Homo sapiens: one gene and its partners. The gene in region 1 interacts genetically with each later gene. Each region holds a gene or a part of one and is shown in the gene's direction. Other genes may lie near its edges. The genes, in order: SPPL3, ATP2B2, STX4, TLR7, PRR16, PLB1 and MYLK2.

What was found.
Region 2: changes in SPPL3 (region 1) and ATP2B2 together harm fitness less than expected from each alone (positive genetic interaction), as found in Homo sapiens cells (one large-scale study listed by BioGRID).
Region 3: changes in SPPL3 (region 1) and STX4 together harm fitness less than expected from each alone (positive genetic interaction), as found in Homo sapiens cells (one large-scale study listed by BioGRID).
Region 4: changes in SPPL3 (region 1) and TLR7 together harm fitness less than expected from each alone (positive genetic interaction), as found in Homo sapiens cells (one large-scale study listed by BioGRID).
Region 5: changes in SPPL3 (region 1) and PRR16 together harm fitness less than expected from each alone (positive genetic interaction), as found in Homo sapiens cells (one large-scale study listed by BioGRID).
Region 6: changes in SPPL3 (region 1) and PLB1 together harm fitness less than expected from each alone (positive genetic interaction), as found in Homo sapiens cells (one large-scale study listed by BioGRID).
Region 7: changes in SPPL3 (region 1) and MYLK2 together harm fitness less than expected from each alone (positive genetic interaction), as found in Homo sapiens cells (one large-scale study listed by BioGRID).

The regions. Positions count from the first base shown.
Region 1 is NC_000012.12:120,771,859-120,775,358, reverse strand, and holds part of SPPL3 (signal peptide peptidase-like 3), read left to right. Parts: intron 1-3,500.
Region 2 is NC_000003.12:10,502,787-10,506,933, reverse strand, and holds the start of ATP2B2 (plasma membrane calcium-transporting ATPase 2), read left to right. Parts: upstream 1-1,347; 5' UTR 1,348-1,469; intron 1,470-4,147. UniProt on the Homo sapiens protein: ATP-driven Ca(2+) ion pump involved in the maintenance of basal intracellular Ca(2+) levels in specialized cells of cerebellar circuit and vestibular and cochlear systems.
Region 3 is NC_000016.10:31,036,558-31,040,664, forward strand, and holds the end of STX4 (syntaxin-4), read left to right. Parts: intron 1-1,368; coding exon 1,369-1,477; intron 1,478-1,556; coding exon 1,557-1,633; exon of another isoform or gene 1,634-1,636; intron 1,637-1,952; coding exon 1,953-2,090; intron 2,091-2,983; coding exon 2,984-3,094; intron 3,095-3,165; coding exon 3,166-3,246; 3' UTR 3,247-3,261; intron 3,262-3,354; 3' UTR 3,355-3,607; downstream 3,608-4,107. UniProt on the Homo sapiens protein: Plasma membrane t-SNARE that mediates docking of transport vesicles. Necessary for the translocation of SLC2A4 from intracellular vesicles to the plasma membrane.
Region 4 is NC_000023.11:12,870,072-12,873,571, forward strand, and holds part of TLR7 (toll-like receptor 7 precursor), read left to right. Parts: intron 1-3,500.
Region 5 is NC_000005.10:120,467,300-120,470,799, forward strand, and holds part of PRR16 (protein Largen), read left to right. Parts: intron 1-3,500. UniProt on the Homo sapiens protein: Regulator of cell size that promotes cell size increase independently of mTOR and Hippo signaling pathways. Acts by stimulating the translation of specific mRNAs, including those encoding proteins affecting mitochondrial functions.
Region 6 is NC_000002.12:28,600,560-28,604,059, forward strand, and holds part of PLB1 (phospholipase B1, membrane-associated isoform 1 precursor), read left to right. Parts: intron 1-249; coding exon 250-301; intron 302-692; coding exon 693-773; intron 774-1,339; coding exon 1,340-1,405; intron 1,406-2,261; coding exon 2,262-2,362; intron 2,363-3,406; coding exon 3,407-3,488; intron 3,489-3,500. UniProt on the Homo sapiens protein: Calcium-independent membrane-associated phospholipase that catalyzes complete diacylation of phospholipids by hydrolyzing both sn-1 and sn-2 fatty acyl chains attached to the glycerol backbone (phospholipase B activity).
Region 7 is NC_000020.11:31,832,270-31,835,184, forward strand, and holds the end of MYLK2 (myosin light chain kinase 2, skeletal/cardiac muscle), read left to right. Parts: intron 1-1,447; coding exon 1,448-1,528; 3' UTR 1,529-2,415; downstream 2,416-2,915. UniProt on the Homo sapiens protein: Implicated in the level of global muscle contraction and cardiac function. Phosphorylates a specific serine in the N-terminus of a myosin light chain.

The DNA.
Region 1 (3,500 bases):
CCAACATGGTGAAACCCCATCTCTACTAAAAATAAAAAAATTAACCAAGGTGTGCTGGCATGCACCTGTAGTCCCAGCTACTTGGGAGGCTGAGGCAGGAGAATCACTTGAACCTGGAAGGCAGGGGTTGCAGTGAGCTGAGATTGCACCACTGCACTCCAACCTGGGCAACAGAGTGAGACTCTGCCTCTAAATAAATAAATAAATAAAATGCTACACTCTTGGTGCGCTGACTCCACATAGGGCATAGATATCTAGAGAGCCTGTATCGCGAATGTGAGCACTGCTTAGAAACCTTACAGGTTATGTCATCCTCGTAGAGAACATTTGAGCTCGGTTTGGTGTCACTGTCTTTGTCCCTGACTCACTGGTTGTAGAAGACAATGTAATACAGAGATATCAGTGATAAATTGAAAATAACTCTAGCTAAATGGCTAAGATTAATCATTTACTTCCCCCAACACTTTTGGTTAATGTACATTTAACCAAAAGTTAAGTGTGTTGGTAAACCTATAAGAGAGAGTCTCAGGAGTGTCTAAAGCCGCAAGGGAAAGAGAGCACCTCCCTTCACTTTAGCCTTGAAAAGCCCTGAGGAGGAGGTAAGATTTTTTAAGGGTTACTTGAATGACAGAATGAAAGGCAGGCAAACTAGATTGAGAGCATGTTCTGGGAATACGACATTGCTTGTGGCAGTGTTCGCTGGGTCAGAGTGGTATTTATTCCACATGCCTCTAAGAGCCTTCTCTGAGACAGTCAAAAGGATGCCTTCTGCCTCTTCATACACGGAACTTAGACTAGAGTGGGGAGGACCTAGATGGTCTAATTGGAAAGAGGGTGTTCAGCTTAACGCAGATGGAGAGAAGGGATAGGCTGAGGAATAGGAACCCGTTCAGACAGATGCCAAGGCAGAGCCAGCATGGTGCTCAGCTCCACTCTGTGGAGGTTGTGCCTCCTGAGTTTATGCAACTTTATAATTAGACTTGATTCGTCATAGAGAAGGGAACCTGGTGACCTTCAGGCAGGAAATTATGTGAACAGATGTTTGACAGTGGCAGTGAACAGTACATGGGAAAGAGTAAGAGGGAGGGAGGGAAAGGAGACACAGCAAAGTAGGAAGTGGGTGGAGGTGTGAGCAAGGTCTGCAGTAACAGTAAAGGATAACACCTCAGAATGGCTGCAGATTTCATGTGTATGATGAGAGGCTGTGATGTGTTGAAGATGAACCCAGACTTTCTTATTTGGAAGGTTAGGATAGAATGACACTGTCTGGAGTCATGGAAAACCCAGTCACTGAGCAGTCTGTTCCATGTTTAGTTTAGACGCAGGTGGAGGAGGATTAGCATGAGATGAATGACAAAGCAGCAGGTGGATGCTCAGACCTTGTGACCTTTCAAGGCTCCTGCGCAGTTAGGATGAAGTGATTCTATGGCAAATTGAGTACAAAAGTTCAGGAAGGGCCAGACGCGGCGGCCCATGCCTGTAATCCCAGCACTTCGGGAGGCTGAGGCAGGTGGATCACCTGAAGTTAGTAGTTCAAGACCAGCCTGACCAATATGGTGAAACCCCATCTCTATTAAAAATGCAAAAATTAGTTGGGCATGGTGGCGGGCGCTGGTAGTCACTTGAGAGTCACTTGAACCTGGGAGGCACAGGTTGCCGTGAGCCAAGCTTGTGCCACTGCACTCAGCGTGGGCGACAGAGCAAGACTCCATCTCCAAAAAGAAAAGGTCAGGAAGGGACAGGTCGTCTACATGTGTCACAGAGGCGAATAAACTTACCCCGAGGAGCCTGGCCTCTTGCTTCTCTGTTCAGTCTGTTTCCCTGCCCCGCTTTTGGTTACTGGTGAGCTGCATCATTCAGTCCTCTGACCCTCACTCCCCGCAGACTCCTGTCTCCCGTCTGTCCATCCTAGGCCTTCTGTTACTTTCTTCGTGCCCTTGATGCCTTGCATTCCATGTATTCACCTGTAAGTCCATGAACAGATCACCCTAGCCAGTATCTATACACAAACCTGTGTCTCACCTGTGCTCTGGCCCGATGGGCTTCCCACCTGCTGCTGACCACTGTTGTTCCTCCAGCCAGATGAGCTGCTCCCTGGTAATGTCCTGGTTATTGACTCATGACACAACCAAATCTTTGTTTCCTAAAGATGATGATCATGGGAGGTCCTGTCCTTTCAAATATGCGTGTGAGTTGATCAGAGCAGGGGCTCTGGGTACATCTCTCAGTGTCCTAAACATCATGTTTCAGTCATCCCTTTGCAGCTCTGAATGCTCTGAGCTTTGTCAAGCCTCACTGACTAATACATTTCATTAGGTTCATTTCAAATGACATGCATTTGTATACATTTTACCAGGTTGGTTGTATGAATTTATTTAAAAATTAAAGGAGACCTTAGTATAATAAACATTCTATATGATTATAAAGTCAGGAATTAGATCTTGACCACATCTCTCCAGAACTCACACTGCAGCTCACCCTGTAACTCAGTGAGCGCTTGATAACAGTGATGATAGTGGAGATGAAGATATATATTTTGCTCTTCCTAGGTTGAATACTGTCTTTCCAACTCCTCTGAGTTGTAGGGATGAGGCAGCTTTTTCTCCTCTGTGTTTATATTAGCACCGTGCACACAGTAGGAACCCATGAAACAGTAATTTAGTTGATGTGTCCAGGGTCTGCCAAGCTGCTGTATTTATCCACTTTATTACATATATTGACAATTTACCACCAGTTCTATGAAAATGAAATATATCTGTTCATATGGCTTTTTACTTTCCTTAGAATAATTTGAAATTTGAAGTTAATAGAACACAGTTTTGCATTCATTCAGCAAGTATTTATTGAATGTCTACTCTGTCAAGTGCTAGGGATCCACAGAAAGAATCAGACATGGTTTCTGTTTCCCAGGAGCACGTGGTCAGCTAGCACAGGGAATAAACTTACCAGTATGTAAATATTCACAAGGTCATAGAATGGATGAGTGAGTTGAGAGACATTCAACGTTCTATGGCACATCACATAGAAGAAGCAACTGGGCCGGGCGCGGTGGCTCATGCCTGTAATCCCAGCACTTTGGGAGGCCGGGGTGGGTGGATCACCTGAGGTCAGGAGTTTGAGACCAGCCTGACCAACATGGTGAAACCCTGTCTCTACTAAAAATGCAAAAATTAGCTGGGTGTGGTGATGGATGCCTGTAATCCCGGCTACTCGGGAGGCTGAGACAGGAGAATCACTTGAACCCAGGAGGTGGAAGCTGCAGTAAGCTGAGATTGCACCATTGTACTGCAGCCTGGGCAACGAGCAAAACTCTGTCTCAAAAAAACAAAAAAAGAGCAGCAGCAACTGACTGGTTGGATCAGGAAAGACTCTGAGAAAGGACTCCTGACCTGGCTCTTCCAGAATGAGGATGGATTTTCCATATGAAGGAGCCGGGGGCAGGACCTTCTGGGTAGAGCGTGAAAAGAACACAGTATGTGTGGAGAGCGGGAAATTGTGTT
Region 2 (4,147 bases), on another chromosome or scaffold:
TCTGATTTTGGTGCAGTGCAGACTTTCAGCTTAACGAGACAAATTGGTATTCTGTGCCAGCCCAGGGATGGAGCGGCAGCTCGGGACGCTCGGGCGGGCAGCTCAGAGGTGGGCAGGAGGTGGGGGCAGGGGAAAGAGGCAGCTTCTGCCTGGAACTGCCTCCCGGGGCCGCCTCCAGCCCTGCCCCTGTCCCCCATGCACCCCTCCACCCTGACAGGTGCCCTGAGACACTGGTCCTGAAGGTCCTTCCACCTTCAGTGCCCTCCCTCCAAGCAGGGTACCCCTCCTGGAGGGGGCAGGGCAGTGGAGGCCAAGGCTTCAGAATTCTAGAGAAGCCCCTCGCCCCCGGTGACCTCCTAACCTTGCTCTTAGGGCTCTCCTCCCACCCATCTGGAGTTGAAAGAGCAGCAAGTCTGGCAGAGATTAGGCAGGAAGAGGTGAGCAGCTGGCTAGGGGCTTCCAACCCTACCGACTCCTCACCCGGGGTCCCTGGGTTCCCGTGGAAGTGTCAGTCAGCCCACAGTCGGCCTGCAACTCATCATAGATGTCCTGAAGATTAGGTGGGTGTACAGACATGCAGACACCCCTGCTGGTGGGCACCTTCTTGAGGCAGGCCCTTCTGCCAAGCCAGCCCCCACCACCACACCCCCCCGAGGGCAGGTGGGGTCGCACACAGGCAGGGCGGGTCGCAGGGGTAGCGCTTCAGGGCAGCAGAGAGCTGCTGCGGGCTCAGCTCCACTGGCCCTGGAAACACAGATGTGTTTAAAATGTGTTGAGTCGACTTCTCCCCATTTGCGACCTTTGCCCCTTTGCCCCCCAGGTCTGGGGGTGCCTTGACTGCAAAGAGGGGGGCCAGAGCCCCTGACCAAATAAGTCCCCCAGAAAGCAAGGGACGACTTGGGGCCATTTGAGCAAAATCCTCCCCTCTCTGCTCCCGTTCTCCCCACCACCACTCTCAGGACCCCCTTCCCTCCAGCACAGCCCAGCCCTACCCTCTCCGTGCCCTTGACATTCCCTCCTGCTTCTGGGGAGCGGGCATATTCCTGGGACTCTGCCAGCTTCGGTTCCTCATGATCCCACGGGAGGAATTAAAACCGCAAACAACAGCGTGGTGGTTCGGTCCACACACCCCCCCCGCCCCCCACTCTCCTCCCCCGTGCCCCCTCCAGAACCGGCCCTCCCTGTGTCCCTCCCTCCCTCCCTCCTCCCGCCCCCATCCCCCAGCCTCCGGCAGCGGCAGGGGCGGCCTCTGCCTCCCCCGAGATTGCATTTTGCCGGCGAGATGCTCTCCTAGAACCGGCGCCGGCGCCTCCGCCCCCCGCCCCCCACCCGCTCGGGCAGGATGGTACAGTCTGCAGAGGGGCCCGGGCACGCTGGCTGGGCTCAGCCGCGGCACCAGCTGCCGCACCGCGATTACGGGGCTGCCCGCCGGGAAACCGTGCAGGATTGGTGGTGATTTTCATAGCCAAGTAAGTACCGGCATCCCCCAGCATGAGAAAATAAAAAATAAAAAGCGCCCCACTCCACTCTCCCCTTCCTCCCTCACCCATTTTATTTTGTTTCATTTCATTTGATTTTTCTCAGTGCTGATGGTGGTGGCGGTGGCAGCGTGGAGGGGGGGTGGGAGCAGGGCTTGTTTATCTGGCAGCAGCCGAGGCTGCACTGGGAGCCGCCGCTGAGGGAGACACTAGTGTGAGGGTCCGCGTGTTGTGGGGGACGGCTGGATGCTGGGGACTAGGACAGGGGGGCCTCGGACAAGCGGATGCCCAGGGTCTCAGGTAGATTCCGGCAGCCTCTGGACTGCAAATGCCCCCTAAGGATGTTATGCAAGGGCCAGCAAGCTGGTGGCAGGGGACAAGGTTCTCTTCTCTCTGAGCCGGTCCCAGGGAGACCAAGAGGACTGGAGGGTGCCCGTTGCCCACCCTGGTCAGAGTCCCAGGAAAGAGGCAGGAGGAGGCCCCTGTGAAGCGTCCCTTTGGTGGGGTGGGCAGCTGTGTGCTGGGACTCATTGGGTCAGGCCAGCCGGGTCATGTGGTGGCAGGGACGTGTTCCTGGGTCCCCTCCATGGCCAGGAGGGTGGCAGGAACGGGTGGCCAGGCCATTTTGCAGCAGTCATGCTGGGTGGTGGAGTCGGCACCCTCTGCCCAGAAGCCCACTTCCTAGGCCAGCCTCAGTGGTCTCCAGCTGAGGGATAGGGCACCTGAGGCTCCTCCCTGCCCCCTGCAGGGTCAGGATGGGAAAATGCAGCAGGGGGCCTCAGGACTCCCTGAGGGTGGGTTGCGGACAGCAGCAACCCCTTTCTAGCCAAGTAGCTATTCCACACCACGGCTGTCCTCTGCTCACCCAGGTTGGGGGTTGGGGGTTGGGGGGGTGCTCTGGACTGGCCTGCCCCAATCAGGCAAGGGCCCTGGGGGTCTCGGGCCCTCCATGCAGAGGCCCAGCCTGGCTCGACCTTCAGAAGGGTAAGTGAGCAGGCAAGCCCGACCAGCCGGCAGAGGGTCTTAGTGCGACGCTGCATGCCCTGAGCCCAGCGTGGAAGGGGCTCCCTCCTCTCCTGCATTGCTCTCCGAATCGCTGGGAGGAGGCAGAGCTGACGTTTGGGGTATTTCCAGGATCAGCGGGCGCCATCCGGAGAAATTCTCCTTTGACGTGTGCAGTAGGAGGGGGCTTGGAGCGCAGGCCTTGGGGGCCTCCGCCTGTTAACTTCGTTGAAGGAGCAGTGGCAAAGAAGGGGCTGCAGCTCTGGGGAGTCCTGTGGGGGGTTGGGGGTCCAGGAAAGATGCTGATGGCCACCATTATTTAGCCACCTTCACACCCTAGTCCCATTCACATCAGGGCATATGCATGCCCACAAATTCACACATATGCACAGATACAAATATAGTACCCATAAGTAGTGCGTCATATATGTCCAAATCATATATACACATATGGAATGCCCATGCCCACACCCCAGCACCTGTAAATACAACCCACGTTCCTGAACACCACATGCTCACGTGCAAAACACAGCACACACACGAATGCAGTACACACATACACACCTGTGCATGCAGCTTGCCCACACATGCATGTAGCACTAACACGGGAAAGCAGTAGGCTGCACACAGTGCCCTGCAACAGCCAGAAATGTGTGTACCCACCTGAGGGCTGGCTCAGGTGTGAAAACAACAGGCACACACATGTGGGGCTCTGAATGCCATCTGCGTGCCTGCCCGTGCATTGGCAGGCACATGGCATGCTGGAATGTGCCCACAGGTGAATGTCAGTTGCACACATAAGAAGACGGCCACAGGCACACAGATGCAGCACCTCTGCGGATGCTGCGTGCACACACCCGCCCCCTCAGCTTCCAGGAGGCAAGGTGGCTCTGTGGGTGCTAGGGAGAGCTTGCCCCTTAAGGGACTTCCGATGAGGACAGAGGGATACTGGATCCTAAGTGCCCGCCACAGCCTCACACAGGCGTTGGGGGAGGGCCAGCCCGTATTCCCAGGGAGCTGTGATTAGACTCAGCAAGGCCATCTTGGGTTATTGATGTTCTTCAGAGAAGGCTGCCCAAAGTTGGAAAGGAGACAGAGGCGGCCAGGGACGCAGCTGCTGCCCGTGGCCCAGACCGCCAGGAGCCCAGACTGGCCCCACCAGCCCTCTCCCTGGCATCAGGAAACCAGCCCGCTGCTATGGGGTCTCTGAGAGCTGGGGCCTGGAACACCTTCAGCAGACTCCAAAGTCCCCTCCAGACTGAAGGTCAGAGAAGCTGCTGTGGCTTACGTTGTATGCAGAGCCTGAAATGCTGGCACCCTCCTGTGCTGTCCCGCTGCCCTCCTCTGCGTTCCCCCAGCTCAGGCGCAGGTATGGGTCAGGGGACCCAAGTAAATAATAGTAATCCAGCTAGCATTCACCCAGCTAACTGCTTTGCACGTATCATCTCAGTGAGGACGCCCATAGCCCTGTTATCCCCACGTCCCAGATGAGGACGCTGTATCTAGAGAGGTGAAGCTGTGTCACCCAAGGTCACACAGCTGGCATGTGGCAGAGGGGAGGTAGAAGGCAGGCCACCAGGTGCCCAACTACCCTCTTTGACCCTTCGGCATGAGGCCAGTTCAAATTGGGGTACCAAAATTTTGGGAACCTATAGCTCAAGAACTTA
Region 3 (4,107 bases), on another chromosome or scaffold:
AGCAGTGAACCAGTGATCCCTGTCCTCATGGAACTTCCCTTCTGGTGTAGACAATCACCATAATAAATAAGTGAATTATTTAGAACATAATAAGCATTAAGGAAAAAAGAGCAGGGGAAGAGGGACTAAGCATGCTGGAGGAGGTAGAGTTGCAGTTGAAAGCAGGTGGAGGAAGCTTCATTCAGAAGGTAACATCTGAACAAGAGACTTAAAGGTGTTTGCTGGGAATGAGCATTCTAGGTAGAAGGAAAAGTGAATGCAAAGGCTTAAGCTGAGAGTGTGCTTTGTCTAGGGAGGGGTAAGGAGACCAGTGTGGATGGGCAGAGGAAGGGAACAGTAAGAGGAAGTAAGATCAGAGAGGTCATGGGAGAAGGAGAGATCATAGAGGGCTAGCCAGGCACCGTGGCTCACGCCTGTAATCCCAGCACTTTGGAGGCTGAGGTGGGAGGATTGGTTGAGCCCAGGAGTTTGAGACCAGCCTGGGCAATATAGTGAGACCCCCCCCCCTTTTTTTTTTTTCCTTTGAGACAGGGTCTCACTCTGTTGCCCAGGCTGGAGTACAGTGGTGCCATCTCTGCTCACTGCAACCTCCGCCTCCTGGGTTCAAGCCATTCTCTTGCTTCAGCCTCCCAAGTAGCTGGGACTACAGGCGCCCACCACTGCACCAAGCTAATTTCTGTACTTTTAGTAGAGATGGGGTTTCACCACGTTGGCCAGGCTGGTCTTGACCTCCTGACCTCAGGTGATCCACCTGCCTCAGCCTCCCAAAGTGCTGGGATCACAGGCATGAGCCACCGTGCCCGGCCAACCCTGTCTCTATTAAAAATAAAAATAGGCCAGGTGCAGTGGCTCACGCCTGTAATGGAGGCCGAGGCAGGTGGATCACAAGGTCAAGAGATCAAGACCATCCTGGCCAACATGGTGAAACCCCATCTCTACTAAAAATACAAAAATTAGCCGTGCGTGGTGGCGCGTGCCTGTAGTCCCAGCTACTCGGGAGGCTGAGGCAAGAGAATTGCTTGAACCCGGGAGGCCAAGGTTGCAGTGAGCCGAGATTGTGCCACTGCACTCCAGCCTGGGCAACAAGAGTGAAACTCTGTCTCAAAAAACAAATAATAAATAAATAAATAAATAAATAAATAAATAAATAAATAAAAAAGATCATGGAGGACCACATAGGCCTGATAAGGGCTTTGGCTTTTAGTCTAAGAGAAATGGGGGAGCCTGTCAAGGTCATCACAAGGTGGTTAAGGTGGCAGATCCCGCATAAGAGCTCATGCTATTTGCTCACTGTACTATGGGGTTGCCGAGGCACCGACCGGGCAGGGATCCTCCCAGGGGCACTCAGCCTATATTCTTCATCTTTAGCATGGGGTCCTGTCCCAGCAATTCGTGGAGCTCATCAACAAGTGCAATTCAATGCAGTCCGAATACCGGGAGAAGAACGTGGAGCGGATTCGGAGGCAGCTGAAGATCAGTGAGTTGTGCATGCCCAGCCTGGCCCGCAGGGGCAGGTAATCCCAACCCAACCCTGAGCCTGGCCTTTTCCTTCACAGCCAATGCTGGGATGGTGTCTGATGAGGAGTTGGAGCAGATGCTGGACAGTGGGCAAAGCGAGGTGTTTGTGTCCAATGTGAGTGGCCACAGCCAGCCCCTCTCTGCTGTGCCTCCCATCCCCTCTGAGTCCTGTCCGTTTCTCGACCTCCTGGGCTCAGGTGATCCTCCTGCCTCAGCCTCCCGAGTAGCTGGGACTATAGGTGCAAGCCACTGCACCCCGCTTGCTGTGGCCCTTTCTGATTAAGGGCACCCTGAGGCCTCTAAGGGAATTAATTAGCCTGCCTGGAGTCACCCATCAGATTCCAGGCTGAGGGCTCCCCAGAAGCTCAACAGGAGTTTCTGACCTGCTGTCGGTCTCCCTGTGAACAGTTGCCCCACTCCTGTCCACCCCCCAGATCCTGAAGGACACGCAGGTGACTCGACAGGCCTTAAATGAGATCTCGGCCCGGCACAGTGAGATCCAGCAGCTTGAACGCAGTATTCGTGAGCTGCACGACATATTCACTTTTCTGGCTACCGAAGTGGAGATGCAGGTGGGTGCCCCGCGCAGCCCCAGACGTGAGACCAGGCTCAGTCCAAACTGCCAGCCTCCCGCCACCCTTAGATTCTCTCCCTGAGGCTTTTGTGTCTTCCAGGTTTGGCCATGCCCCCAGATTGGTGCTTATTCCTATCCTTAGCTGTACCCCGAGAATGGCACCTGCCTCTGCTGCTACACAGATGCCCACTCCCTTCTGCATAGCACCCTGCCCCCTCTCCAAAACTTGAGCCTGCCCAGGTCTGGCCCCAGCCCTCACTCCCCCTCCACTAACAGCATCCACCCTTATACCTCTCAGAGGTCCAGTCAGAGTTGCCCTAGAGGGGCTGCCTCCTAACATCTGTACAAGGCTGGGGTGGGGGCGGCGTTCCCCTGGCCCTGGTTGTGAGTTGAGTTGAGCTTCCAGCCCTGTCCTGGAGGAGCTGGCCTCAGTCATGCTACAGCCAATGCCCTTTTGCAGCTGAGACTTACAGGAAAGAGATCTCATTCAGTAGGAGTACTGAGACCTGAGGCTGGTGGTGCCAGGAGGAGGCAGGGATAGGGAGGGCTTTGCAGCAGCTGTAGATAGGCCTGGAAGAATGGGTAAATTCAGACAGATTTGTGAAGGCACAGTTCACCATCTGTGAAAGGTATGAGCCATTTGAGGCCCTTAGCTCCAAGCTACCACTGCAGATAGAGGTTGTATGGGATAAGTGAGCAGGGGACAAGGGACTACATGATAGAAGGGGCCTGGAAGCCATCCCCAAGGAGTCTGAACTTTTGTCAGATCAAGTCTTGCCCTTGTCTTTGTTAGTGCAATTTTTTTTTCCTGCCAGGAATGTTCTTCAGTCATCTGGGGTGGGGTGGGCAAAGGCATCCTTACCTCCCTGAACCACCCCATCCTCTGAGCAGGGGGAGATGATCAATCGGATTGAGAAGAACATCCTGAGCTCAGCGGACTACGTGGAACGTGGGCAGGAGCACGTCAAGACGGCCCTGGAGAACCAGAAGAAGGCGAGGAAGGTGAGCCTCCCAGGCCCGGCCACTGCCCCAGGCACCCTGTGTGACTTCCCTGACCCCCTCCTCTCCCACAGAAGAAAGTCTTGATTGCCATCTGTGTGTCCATCACCGTCGTCCTCCTAGCAGTCATCATTGGCGTCACAGTGGTTGGATAATGTCGCACATTGTTGGTGAGATGTTGTGGGCTGCCCCCTGGCCTGCCCCAGCCCTGGCCCCAGCCCTCCCTCCTCCCTCAGACCCTGTTCTCCCTCCTTTCCTTACAGGCACTAGGAGCACCAGGAACCCAGGGCCTGGCCTTCTCTCCCAGCAGCCTGGGGGGCAGGGCAGAGCCTCCAGTCGGACCCCTTCCTCACACTGGCCCCTATGCAGAAGGGCAGACAGTTCTTCTGGGGTTGGCAGCTGCTCATTCATGATGGCCTCCTCCTTCAGGCCTCAATGCCTGGGGGAGGCCTGCACTGTCCTGATTGGCCGGGACACACGGTTTTGTAAAAAATTAAAAAACAAAAAAAGAGCATAGAAAGCCCTGTGCACGTGTGTTCCTGGAAGGGCTGGCCCAAGGCTTCCGGGCATCCAACCTCCTTACCTCCTGGACGTCCCCAGGGCCAGGTCTGGCCCTGGCTGCTCAGGTCAAACTGCCAGGGGTGCTGTGCCCACAGCAGGCTGGTTCTGCCTTTCTGCACCCCCATAGGAATGGGTGGGCAGGGAGGGGTAACACCGGCATCTAGCTCCTGGCTCAGTACTGTCCCCGGGAAAGGACCACTGTGAGTATCTGTCTTGGAAATGATGAGGCTGACCAGGCCAGGCTGGGACGCAGGTGAGATGGGGGTTTGGGTGGCATCAGTGGGCCTTCTTGTGGCCCAGAGGAAGAGGCACCATGAAAAAATGCCTAATTGAGGCTGTCACTTTGGATGCAGTGGATAGGGATGGTCTGGTTTCAGCAGGGATGACATTGGAGTGGGATGTTAAGCTGGGGAAGAGGTTGCCAGTCAGAAAGCACAGGAGGCCGGGCCCTGTGA
Region 4 (3,500 bases), on another chromosome or scaffold:
ATGTTGGATAATCTGTGATGATGGTTTACATAAACACATGTGTTGCATATTCTAATTTCATTCAACATCCCTACTTTATAACCATTTTACAGTTGGCAAATCAGAGGCTCATGAGGTCAAGTGATTTATGAAAGTCAGAGAGCTCTTACATGACAGAACAAGGACTTAAAACCAAATTTTTGTACTGACAAAGCCTTGGCTGTTACTAGAATGCTTCTCACCATGTGAAATAGATGCAGGGATGGGAAATTACTATTAGAAGGGACCATCTCCCAAAATGTCAATAGTGGTTCAGCAAATTTAAAAGTAAAAATATTATTCTGCTCTTAACCTATAGGAAATTTCTTTATGGCTAAAAAAAGGTTATTAAGTAATCAATTTATTAAATTAATACAATCTGATTATTTAAAAATTTGGAACGCTGTACTAAAATTAAAAATCATCATTACAGATTAACCAGCCAGTACCTCTGCACCCCAAGAATAAATAATGTATATCCCCGAAACTCACCGAAGTTTAGGGCTGGGGTTGGCAAACTATGGCCCATGGGCTATATCCCACCTGCTGTACAGCTCATGAGCTAAGGGGTTTTTTTTTAATTGTTGTTTTTAAAAGACTGAAAAATATCAGAGCAAAATTACTATTTTGTGACATATAAAAGTTACATTCAAGTTTCAGTGTTTACAAATGGTTTTATTGTTTGAGTATTTGTTTACTTATTGTTGATAAGTGCTTTTGCACTACGATGGCAAACTATTCAAGGAGTTGGGTAGTGTGACAGAGAACCTGATGGCCTGCAAAGATTAAACCATTTACTAACTGGCCCTTTACAGAAAAAGTACGTCAGGCCGGGGCTTATAGAAAACAAAGGGATAAGGTATAAGGTCAAATAGGTTTGAGAGCCCTATGGTCTTTGGTGACTGTTGTGATGCATAATAGCTGTTGAGTTCCTAATTTATGTAAGACAACTTTATATCCTTTTATTCTTTTAGTTTGAAAACTAAGTCTGTTGGGCTAAAATGATAGGAAGTAAATGATAACTCTCTCCTTTTTTTAAAAAAAAGCAAGTGGTTTACAACCTTGTACTTAAACGTTTTGGTGACATAATGAAACTGATATTCATGGTATTTGTACTTTACAGAGATTAAACTAAAATTAAAAATATTTCAAAATTCACAAATAGGGGATATTTGTTAATAAATCTATTTGGGAAATTCCTAGCAGAGGCTCAGTCTATAAAATGAATAGCATTTCAGCAACTTCCCTTATTCACAGTGCTTGGTTATTCTCTAGGGAGACATACACAACACATCTCTAGTTACCAAACAATTCAGTGTGATATAAACATGGCAAAAAGTCAATGAATTTGAGGGCAAGGTTTCCAGCAATCGCCCCGGCCATTGCTTACTTCTTCCATGCCCTTTCTAAGTTTTCTTCAGCCAGGCAGCCATCCCCTCTGGTTTCTCCCAGACCCCCGCTGCAGGCTCCCCGCCATCACAGAAAGCCCCTCGCTCACACGTCTTGGCTCAAGCAACTCTTTGTCTTAGAAATGCAGATCCCAACATTTCCTTTTAAACTCAGGCAACTTGGCTTTTTTCTGCTCTGTGATCTTGAAAGTCGCTTGGAGGAACAGCTGAGTGCATGGGGCTGTTGTCCTCTCAGGGCTAACATGTTGTAGCCCAGGGGGTGCCCAGGGGCCTTTCTGACTGGTTGGTTAGTTGGGTAAAAGAGTAGAGTCAGGAGAGCAGGAAATCCTTTCTTAACTCACTATAAAAATAAAAGCGTTCCCCAGGCCTCAAATAGTCTCATCTCAAGATAAATTTCCTTTTGCCAAGATTGCTGCTGAAAATAATCCATTGTAGCCAGATAATAGCTATGCAAAGAATATATAATAGACTGGCAGGGGCATGCCTACCGATTCAATACAGAAAGGTGAGGGTTTCATTTGCTGGGGTGTAGTGGGTGGGAGAATTCCTTATTGCAATCACACTCTACTTCTCCATCCAGAAAACTCTCCAACCCTCCTGGAGGACTCTCCATTTTCTCCTCTTTCTCCTCCTTGTGTACCTACCTAGACCATCTGCTCCCATATGTCCTGTCTGACTTCCTGTTCCAGTTACCTATCACTGCGTAAGAGATCACCTCAAAATGCAATGGCTTCAAACAACAACAATCATATACTGCTTTCTATCATGGGTCCAGGAGTTGACTGGACTCATTAGGCAGCTCTCCCACAGGGTCTCTCTTGGGGTGGCAGTCAGGCGGTGACTGCGACTGGAATCACCTGAAGACTCACTCTCCAGGTCTGATGCCTGGGCTAGGAGACTCAACAGCTAGGTGCCGAAGCAGCTGCAGCTCCTCAAGTGTCTCTGTCTCCATGTGGTCTCTCTAATATGGTGGTTGTCGTATAGCCAGGCTTCTTACAAGGGTGATGACTCAGGACTCCAAAGCAAGTGGGTGAGAGAAAGGGAGAGAGGGAGAAACAGGGAGAGAGAGAGAGAAAGTGTGTGTGTGCCAGTACGCGCGAGGTGAAAGCTGTATTGCCTGTGAACTACCCACCATGTCTTTCGTCCTCTTGACAGGAAACCTCCTAGAAATGTTTGCTGTCTCCAAATCCCTCTCCTTACGTTCTTCCAAGAACTTTGAAGTCATATTTTATGTAGCTACTCCTTCAAAACATATCTGGTGTTCGGCCAGTTCTTACGCCCTCCAGCACTGCTACCTGGGACTTCTGCTTGAATGACTGTAATAGCCTCTCAACTAGTCTCCCTGCTTTCACCCTTGCCCCTCACTGTCTATTCTCAACACAGCAGCCAGCAGCATCCTTCTCAAATGTAAGTCAGACCAACTGATTGTCAGCTCAAAAATTTGCAATGCATCTGCATTCCACCCAGAGCAGAGACCGCCATCCATGGAATGGTAGAGAAAGCCCAACATGCTCAGGGACACTCCCTCTCTGACTTCATCTCCTATTGTTCTCCTACACCCCCTGCTTCAGCAATATTGGCCCCGTTGCCATTTTTGTGAATATTCTAGCATGTTTTCACCTTGGGGCCTTTGCTCCAGGCTAATCCATCTGTCTGGAATGCATTTCCCCTGGATGTCTGTTATGGATGACTTTGTCCTTTCCTTGAGGTCTTTGTTTAGATATCAACTTCTTAATGATGCCTATCCAAGCTGCCCTATTTATCGTCACAATCCTACCCCACATTCCTGATCCTTTTCACTCTGCCCTGTTTTCTTTTTCAGTAACACTTATCACTTGACATGCAATATCATTTCTGACAGTTATATATTTTTGTGATTATTTAGAGAACATAAGCTATAGTTGAGTGGAAATCTTTTCTATTTTGTCCACTGATGTCCCAAACACCTAGAGAAGTACCTGGCATGTTGCAGGCATCAATAAATACTTGTTGAATTTTTCCTTTTTCACAATTTCCTTCTACGTTGTTATGATGAGATCTTATTTCCTCTGTAATTTGATTTTAAAAGTTTTA
Region 5 (3,500 bases), on another chromosome or scaffold:
AATATAAATTATCGGCGAGCTCTTCTTAACTTGCAACAGAAATTAAAAATAAAAAAGTAGTTATGACTATATCACTATGGCAGTCATCATATAGTATTTATTTTTTCTTTCTGCTTTTAAAAAATATCTAGTTAAAATGCAATCTTCTTTAATTCTGTTCTTTGTTTTTGTGTAATTTCTGCACCAACAATATTAAACTTTGGTTTGAGGTTACTCTGAAATTGCTTTTCTTCATAGAAGTTTTCTGGGCTTAAGTCATCTGAAAACTCAGGTAGTAGGATAGAATCAAACATAATAGTAATTGCTTGAAACACTTTAATAAGTAGTGACAAAACTCTAGTCTGCTCAGCAAGAAGAGTTGTTATTTTGGGTATCTGTTTTATGATTATTTAGTTATAATTACTTAATCAGTTATAATTGGATTATATATTAGAAGCAGAGGAACAGGCTTTCTAGAAAGTCAAAGAGCAGCCTTATTCTACTCTCAGAATTTAGTAAAATCTCAAATAATTTGACTTTTCAGAAATAATATGGGTCCTTTTGTTTTCTATGCTATTAATATATTGGAAAAGCCTTAAATATAATTCAGTATACTTATTGAGCACCTACCATGTTCCAAGTACTATAACACCTTTTAAATTGCTACCAAGATGAATAAGGCATAGTTTCTGGTCTCAGTGAGCTCCAAAGGTTAGTTAGGGATATATTTATCCTGTCTTCCAACATCAGCAGTATAAAAAGACATTGTGGCCTTTAGTGGCCACTCTCACTGCAGGCTTGGGGAAATCGAGAATTGAGAATGAGAGTGAGTATATGTTGATTTATAAAATGATGTGTGCTGCATACTTAGTAGTATGGCAAGTCTTTGATGAAGAAATAAGCTTAAAAAGATGAAAATATATGAATTTTAAGAAATTTACAGTTGACTTAGATTGTCATGGTTAACATAAATGGATCAATACCATATACAGGAGATTACATATTCAAATGTTGTAACTAAATACTGAAGATTTCCATGAAAGCTAAGTCTTTTGGAGAAATGGAGAGTTAAAAAGGAAGATTTTGAATTCTTCTTTTTCTTAATGTAAATAGGGTTTTAAGAGGTAGTCACAGGTAAAAGGAAATAGGTTTGGACTACAAGAGTAATCCATGTTGCATTTTTCTACACATTGAAAAAAAAGAAGAAAATAGTGGTGAAACTCTAGAGTTTTAGTGATAAAATTAACCATAACTGGTAGAGTAGGTGTGAGTGATACTTTTTCACTAAGAAATGTAGAAACAAAGCAATTGCTTTTTAAAATAGTTCTCAAATAATCTAATGCCTTTGAGTAGCAATATGCCTGTTCTTTTATGAAGATCTCACTGGTAAACTATTTTGCATTAAATGCTGGTATTAATATGGGATCACATATCTTATTGGTCAGAGTGACACTGGAATCTGTAATAATCAGCCTTTTATCTGGAAACAAAACTAATTGCAGCTTTAGCTGGATTCTCTTTTAGTTTAGACTTGTTATAACCTTGAGCTTTTCTTGTAGTGTTTATTTTTATGATTTCAAGTAACAAGGCTACTATATGAGTTGAAAAACATATGTAAATAATTTCTTGAGAGGCTTTCTGAATAGACATGACTCTAACAGAGAAACTAAAATAAAGTTGTTTTGTTGTTGCCTTAGAATCACTCAGTGACTGGATCTCCATTGGTGAGAAGTATGTCAGCATTGTTGCCATGGACTGGAAAGCACCCATAATTTGTCTTACAATGGCATAAACTGAAATAAATTTAAGTTGAATTTTGAACAATTTGAACCCCATAGGAAACAGTCTGATTTGAACTGATGAAAACAGAATTAACAATTATCTGAAAAATATTTTCACTTCTAAATGTTCCCTCTTTTAATGTCTTAACCACTTGATGTTCTATAGTTTATTGTCTGGAAATTCCTACCGAGTATTTTTTGGTTAATGAGCCCATGCATAAAAAATTCGTTACAAGAAAAAATTATAGAGAATAATCTCGGAACTATTTTCTTTTTGTTTGAGACAGTATCTTGCCCTGTCACTTAGGTTGTAGGGCAGTGTTAGAGATCTTGGCTCACTGCAGCCTCCATCTCTTAGGTTGAAGGAGTCTTACCACCTCAGCCTTCTGAGTAGCTGGGACTAGAGGCATGCGCCGCCATGCCTGGCTAATTTTTAATTTTTTTTTTTTTGATAGAGATGGTGTCTTGCCATATTCCCCAGGCTGATCTTGAACACCTGTCTTCAAGTCATCCTCCTGCTTAGGCCTCCCAAAGTGGTAGAATTATAGGTATGAGCCACCATGTCTGGCTTGAAGTATTTTCCAAGTTCTAAAGTTGTGTATAAATAGAATTTAGTAGTTCTTTTAATTGTAGCAATAGTCATACTTTTACTACTTTATACCACAGTCTACCTCCCCAAACTGTGGTATATTTACCAAATGCTAAAATGCTCTGAAATTTTTCTTTACTTAGGCATGATGGCCTAGCAGTTACCAAAAATAATTTTGAGAACATAGAGGTAGCCAATAATCATCCATCACTGTCTATTTCCAATGAATTAAAACATTCAACACTTAGAGAATTAGCTGATAAGAAATTCAAGCAGCCTTAAAGTAATAGATAGTGTGTTTCAGGCAACAGTGAAGTAATAGATAATAAAGCCAGTGTAATAGGTTTCATTATTACCTGGATTATGTTATTTTCATCCTTGCTTCTCTGAGGATCTCAGGTACTTAAATCTAAATGTAGGAAAAAAGATAGAAATGCAAGTTTGAGCAAAACATATTTTCCCAAACTATAGAACTTTTCTTCTGTAGAGATAGTTCTTGAAAAATTTCAGGGGCAATTTTAGAGATTTAGAGTAATAAAATTCCAGTAGGTCGCTGATTCAACTCTGATTGAAATATACATGACTGACATCAAGCTGCAAATACAAAGTTAACAAACAACAAAGGGCACTATTAAAAAAATCAAATTTATTTTTTCTGATGTTAGGAGCAGCACATGAATATTATAGAAAGTTTGCAAAAATCTAAAGAAATATAAAGGAGAAAACAAAAATTATCTTTAGTACCACATAAAAATAAGTATACTAAACATTTTGTCATATTTTCTTTTAGTCTTTTTGTATGCATATTTTAACATAGATGAAGTTATACAAAGTTATAAATTATAAGCAATGACATTTTCTACTTTCTTGAATGATATAGATCGTAACTATTACACAGATTTGCTATAAGTTACTTCATACTTCCCTTAATATTGGGTATTCTATTTATTTCCAGCTTTTCATGGTTATTAAACGTCACTAGAAAGAGCAGTTTTGGCAATATGAATATCTAACAGAGGTCTTACTCTCTGCCAGGTACTCTTCTCAGCGCATTTATTTATATTAAATTATCTAATTCTCAAAACAGGTAGATGAGGAAGTTACTGATATTGCCCATTTTACACATAAGAAATCTGAGGTCCGAGATAGTA
Region 6 (3,500 bases), on another chromosome or scaffold:
TGAGCAACAAATATAATTGGCAGTACTTTGACTACAGCTGTAGGACAAACACATCATTGGCTTTTCAAATGATTATCTGTTGTAATAACTTTCCAGAAGAGGCAAGTCACTCCTGGTTTCTGAGCCTCGGGATCTCTGCCAGCTCATGCAGTGGGGATGATACTGTAGAAGCCTCTGGTTCAGGCCCTCTAGGAGGAAAACTATGGGCACTGTTCCTCAACAGAAGGATGGGTTTTCTCTCTTTCTCAGGGATCTTATGAGCCAAGTCCAAACTCTGATGCAGAAGATGAAAGATGATCATGTGAGTCAGATTTACTGTTATTTCTAAACATTAATTTTCTAACCCACTAAAGTTGTCTCCAAACGGAGTGGCCTGCTCTGAAAAGCAGTGAGCCCCATGTTATTAGAGGCATTCAAGCAGTGGTCGGACAGCCCCCTGACAGAGGTCCTGTGGAGGAGGGTATGTCAATGGAGAGAGCTTTGTTGCTGGGTACAGCGACACTGAAAATCCCTCCTGATGCTAAGAGTCTGTGGTCTATAAATAAACCTCTAAAATTCCTTCAGTTCAGAGATGCTGATTCCATTATTTCAAGTGGGCAAGGATGTTATAGAGGGTTGAATGGATTTCCTAGGGCAGGGATATTTTCATTTCCTTGTTGGAAATTATCAAGCATTTTCCTCCCTCCATATAGAGAGTAAATTTCCATGAAGACTGGAAGGTCATCACAGTGCTGATCGGAGGCAGCGATTTATGTGACTACTGCACAGATTCGGTAATTGGGGCCAGGTCCAGGCCTACTTGTTGTTCCTAACTTTGCCCAGTAGGCGTTGGAGATCTTCCCTGAGAACAGTTCCTAAAACCAATCCTAGGATTATCCACCTACACCTATGTCTGCACATATACACATACCACACACACACACACACACACACACACACACTTCTTACCCCACCACCCTCCAGGTCCTTGGCACCATCTCCATGTCCTAGGTGGTGAGGTAGCAGGTGGCAGATATATGGTATTTCTACTCCTCTCTCTTATAACTCCTGAGAATTCAGAAAGAGGAAACTGTAGCAAGCAATTGGAAGGAGGAGTCTCCACTTTCTGCTCCTGAACCAAAGCTCTGGCTGAAGGTTCCAGTCTTCCCACTGGCCCATCTTTGACAACAGCAAGTAGTCAACTGTTCATCTCAGATTTTGACATGGTGAGCTGGCCACAGCTGGAGGCTAGAGGGGGAACAAGTCCTCAGGGCTGGAGCCAGAAGGGAAGTTGAGAACTGCCCCACTGCCCTCCCACCCTAACCAGTTCCTCCTTTTCCTCCTTCCTGTCTCTTTCTAGAATCTGTATTCTGCAGCCAACTTTGTTCACCATCTCCGCAATGCCTTGGACGTCCTGCATAGAGAGGTGGGTGGGGGGCTTCCACAAGCTGGTAACAGCTCAAGCATGGTGAGGGTGAAGGTGGATGGGGGGAAAGAATGAGAGAAGAACCCCTTTCTCTCAAGGAGACAGCCAGGGGCATGGACTCCTTCCCTTTTCAGAGGTTGGGGTCTAACCCCAAGGAAACCTTATTTTATATGGAATCAGCCCAGAAGGGCCTCAGGTCTGAAGGAGGGAAGGCTGTTCCCTCACCACTACATGGGACACTCCTTGGTGGAATTGTCTAATGTCTCCCCACTACTATCCGGGACATTTTCTGGTGGTGGCAGCCAGGTGGCCCCCAGGCTGGGCACTGCCTTCTGAGCCACAGGGTGTGTCTAGAGCAAGCCCCTGTCTGGTCCTGCACCCAGCAGCACATTCCCCCTCCACCACCACCATCTTCTGGCAAGGACAAGCTGCCCTGGCTGCGTGAGACAGGGCACTCTGACCACCAGATGCTCCCCTGTGGGGGTTGAGTCTGCGTGCCTACTCAGCAGAGTTAGGCCAGTTTGGGCTGGAGGGAAGAGGTTGCCTATCTCACCGAAGGTAATTCTAATGTATCTGGGCTTGCTACATGATGGCTAAACAGAGATGATCTCTTAGTCTTTATTGTCCCACTCCAGGAGGTGCCATTGCCGCTGCAGCCCCTTTGGGTGGCACCCATGGAGTTGTGTGATGTACGGCCTGTAAGGCCCTACGAGGTAGCCCTGTATAGACTCCTCCCCAGAACTCAACTCCAGAAAGACCAAGCTGGATTGCTAAAGGAACCCATTCCTAGGGGCCCTGAGACAGCCCCAGGAAGAAGTGCCTGGAGCCCCCCTCTCATCTGCAGCTTTTCCCTTAGGTGCCCAGAGTCCTGGTCAACCTCGTGGACTTCCTGAACCCCACTATCATGCGGCAGGTGTTCCTGGGAAACCCAGACAAGTGCCCAGTGCAGCAGGCCAGGTAGGCAGGTCCTGGCTGTCCCCACACTGGAGATGCCCTCACCTCCTGGTCTGGCCCACATGCAGTGGTGATGCCTCAGGGTCTTTGTGACTTGGTCTATCCATGTGTCCAAGTCTGTAAAGGAGGACTTCTGCCAGAACGTCCCCTTCCAGAGGCTGGAGCCATGACTCCCCTGTTACCCAACTTCAAGGTGCCTGGCAGGAACTTCTATGATACCAGGCAGCCACAGAGGGGAGGGATCAAAGTTGGGACAGAGGCTGGTGTTTGAGAGACAGGATAGCCTAGACTGTGAACATGGGCAGTGGTTAGGGAAGTAGACATATGTGGTCAAACTGTAACAGAAAGCAAGGAAAAGGTACAAGCAACTCAGTTACCTTTAGGGGAAGAAGAGAATTAGGAGGGACACAGGGAGCTTCAAACTGGGAGTGTTTTGTTTCTTAAACTGGGCCATAAGTACATGGATGTGTGTTTTATTATTCTTTATATCTTACACATCTATTTACTCAGCAAATCTTACAGAACTTCCTGTGTACCAGGCATTGTTTCAAGTGCTTTAGAAATCTCTCTCTTAAGTAGATGTGATGGGTGTGAAATAATTCATGATGAAACCAAAGGGGACACAGTAGGGCACTCATGTGAAAGAAGGAGAGGTCTAAGGCATAGCATCAGAGGCCCCAAAATATCAGCTCCAACACCAGAGGATGCATTTTCTTTTTAATTAAACACTAAATTTTCACTGCCCAAATTCATTTGCTCAGCTGAATAATCGGTTGCAGGCCCAGCACCTGCAGTCCAACACTTGTGCTCTGTTGGTATGAGAGGGTGCTCATTCCCACACTGGCTCCCTCCCTCGGGCCATCTCCAGTGCCCCTGCCAGGCCTGAAGCCTGCCCCTGAGCATGTGCGCCAGAGCCTCAAGGCTTGAGTGCTCCTAAACCAGGGCGGGAGGGAGCCTCTCCACCCCTCCCCTGAACCTGGGCAATCAGAACCAGCCCCTGATGGAAGCCTGAGCTCTGGGGCCTCCTGCCTCCCCCTCTTTGTGCAGCGTTTTGTGTAACTGCGTTCTGACCCTGCGGGAGAACTCCCAAGAGCTAGCCAGGCTGGAGGCCTTCAGCCGAGCCTACCGGGTAAGACCAAGA
Region 7 (2,915 bases), on another chromosome or scaffold:
GACTTTTCTGTTTTTGCCCTGGGCTGGCTCCTGTCCTAGAGTGGAGACCTCTACCCGGCCTTCCACCCAGCCCCACCCATCTGGGGCTCTGGCTTCCCTCCTTCATTTTTCAAATATTTCTTGAGCATCTACTACTTCTAGGCATTGGGATATAGGAGTGGACAAAAGAGACAAAGATCTCAGTCTTTGTGGAGTTACTTTTGGTGAGAGATGGGGCATTTTCTATCTTTTTTTCTTTCTTTCAATACAGTCTTGCTCTGTCACCCAGGCTGGGGTACAATGGCGTGATCTCGGCCCACTGCAACCTCTGCCTCCCAGGTTCAAGCAATTCTCCTGCCTCAGCCTTCCAAGTAGCTGGGATTACAGGCACCCACCATCACACCTGGCTAATTTTTGTATTTTTAGTGGAGACGGGGTTTCACCATGTTGGCCAGGCTGGTCTTGAACTCCTGACCTCGTGATCCACCTGCCTCCGCCTCCCAAAGTGCTGGGATTACAGGCGTGAGCCACTGTGCCTGGCTGAGGTGGGGCATTTTCTAGAGCCCTGTGGAAATAGGCAGGGTTAAAGAAGACTTTAGAAAAAAAATAAGGGCCTTCTGCCGGGGAGAGGTTGCACTTTTATTTTTATTTTTTTTAGAGACAGGGTCTCACTCTGCCTCCCCAGCTGGAGTGCAGTGGCGCTATCATGGCTCACTGTAGTCTTGACCTTCTGGGCTCAAGTGATCCTCTCCTTTGGCCTCCTGAATAGCTGGGACCACAGACATATGCCACCACATCCAGTTAATATTTTAAAAATATTTTTGTGGAGATGAGGTCTCGCCATGTTGCTCAGGCAAGCAATCCTCCCGCCTTGGCCTCTCGAAGTGTTGGGATTACAGGTGTGAGCCACTGTGCCCAGCCTGCACTTCTAAATAGGGGGGGTCAGGAAGGGCTCACTGAGAAGCATGTGAACAAAGACCTGAAGGTGGGGAGGGGTGAGCCGTGCCAATACTGGGAGAAGAGTATTCCGGGCAGAGGGAGTAGCCAGTGCAAAGGCCCTGAGGCAGAGGTGTGGTTGGAGAGTTTGAGGAACAGGTAGGAGGCCAGTATGGATGGAGTGGAGTGAGCAAGGAGGTAAGGAATGAAGTTAGAGAGGAAGAGGGGGACAGGAGTTGGAGGGACTCATCGGCCATGGCAAGGGGTTTATCTTTTACTTGGAGCAAAACTGGAGCCATGGGAGTGTTTGGAGCAGAGCGGTCCTTGGTTCAGGTCTGGCTGACCTATCCGTTGAGTGAGGGGACTCCTGGACAATACAGTGTCATGGCGCCTCCCGTGGCCATTTTGGGCACTGCACCTTCTCTAGCCTGTGACCCTCCTGGACTGAAGGGGACTTACAGGCTGCTCAGACACCCTGCAGCTGCCCCCCTGCCCTGGTGTTGACTGGGACTCCCTCTCTTCTGCCCTCTAGAAAAACTTCATTGCTGTCAGCGCTGCCAACCGCTTCAAGAAGATCAGCAGCTCGGGGGCACTGATGGCTCTGGGGGTCTGAGCCCTGGGCGCAGCTGAAGCCTGGACGCAGCCACACAGTGGCCGGGGCTGAAGCCACACAGCCCAGAAGGCCAGAAAAGGCAGCCAGATCCCCAGGGCAGCCTCGTTAGGACAAGGCTGTGCCAGGCTGGGAGGCTCGGGGCTCCCCACGCCCCCATGCAGTGACCGCTTCCCCGATGTGAGCCGCCTCGGAGTGTGGCCTGGATCCATCCTGCTAGCACCTCCCCAGACAGGGCTCCAGCCTGTCGGCCACACCCCAGACTCCAGGCCCCCGTTGAAGCCGCTCCCGGTTCCCTCCCCAGCTCCTCGTCTTTGAACTGCCGCCGCCGTGGTGACCCCTGCTTTGCCCCACTGGGAGAGTCCTTAGCCTGGGCCTCCTCCTAGCTGGAGTGCCATGGCTGGGGGGTCTCAGCATGTAGGGCTTCTGTGGTTGTGGATGGGAGGCTCCTGGTGGGGCAGAAAGGCTGCAACGCTGATTCCTAAGGCCCAGCTGCCAGGGAAGACAGAGCAGGCTTTGTGAGAGAGGACCTCCATGCCCCCGCCACCTCCCCACTCCAGCAGATAAGGCCGAGCCCACACCATCTGGCCCAGGCTGGCCCCCACCCACCTTCCTTGCGACCACCAACACACAGGAACTCTGTGTGAGAGAGAGGGCGCCCAGCCCAGGCCTGGTGGAGGGGGAGGGGAGAAGCCAAGGGACACAGGAGACCACCCCCGAGCTTGCCTCAGGGCCAAGCCGGCCCAACCCAACCACTCGGGGCCCCCATCTTGGGGGTCACCCATGGCCTCAGATGATGGGGTCAGCAGGCCCAGGAGAATTAGGAAGGCCATGGGGCAGCCTCCAGTCTGCTCTCAGCTTGTGCCTTGTAAATAAATGTACAGGTTGGATGTGGCCTCCTTCCCTCTGTGTGTGCCTGCACTGGTGTGAGGTCGCTGATGACCACAGTTCACTGAGCACCTACTGTGTACCGGACACTTTAGCAATATCCGTCAGCTCACAGTTTGGTGGTTCATGCAGGCTCAGGTGCCAGTCTGCCCAGCACATGATGTGGGCAGGTGGCTTCTGCACGTTGTGCCTCAGTATCCTCACCTGTGAGAGGGAGGTCGCAGCAACAGCCTACACCGGGTGTGTGATTACTGCGTGCCCAGCTTTACTTAAAGCGCCTGTGCTGTGTTAACTCATTTACTCCTCACAGCAAAGTTACGAGGCAGGATTGATTGGTTGATTGATTGATTTATGATGGAGTCTCACTCTGTCGTCCAGGCTGGAGTACAGTGGTGTGATCTATGCTCACTGCACGCAACCTCCGCCTCCCGGCTTCAGGTGATTCTCATGAGGCAGGTATTATTATTCCTGTTTTACAGAGGGAGAAACTGAGCCAGAGAGA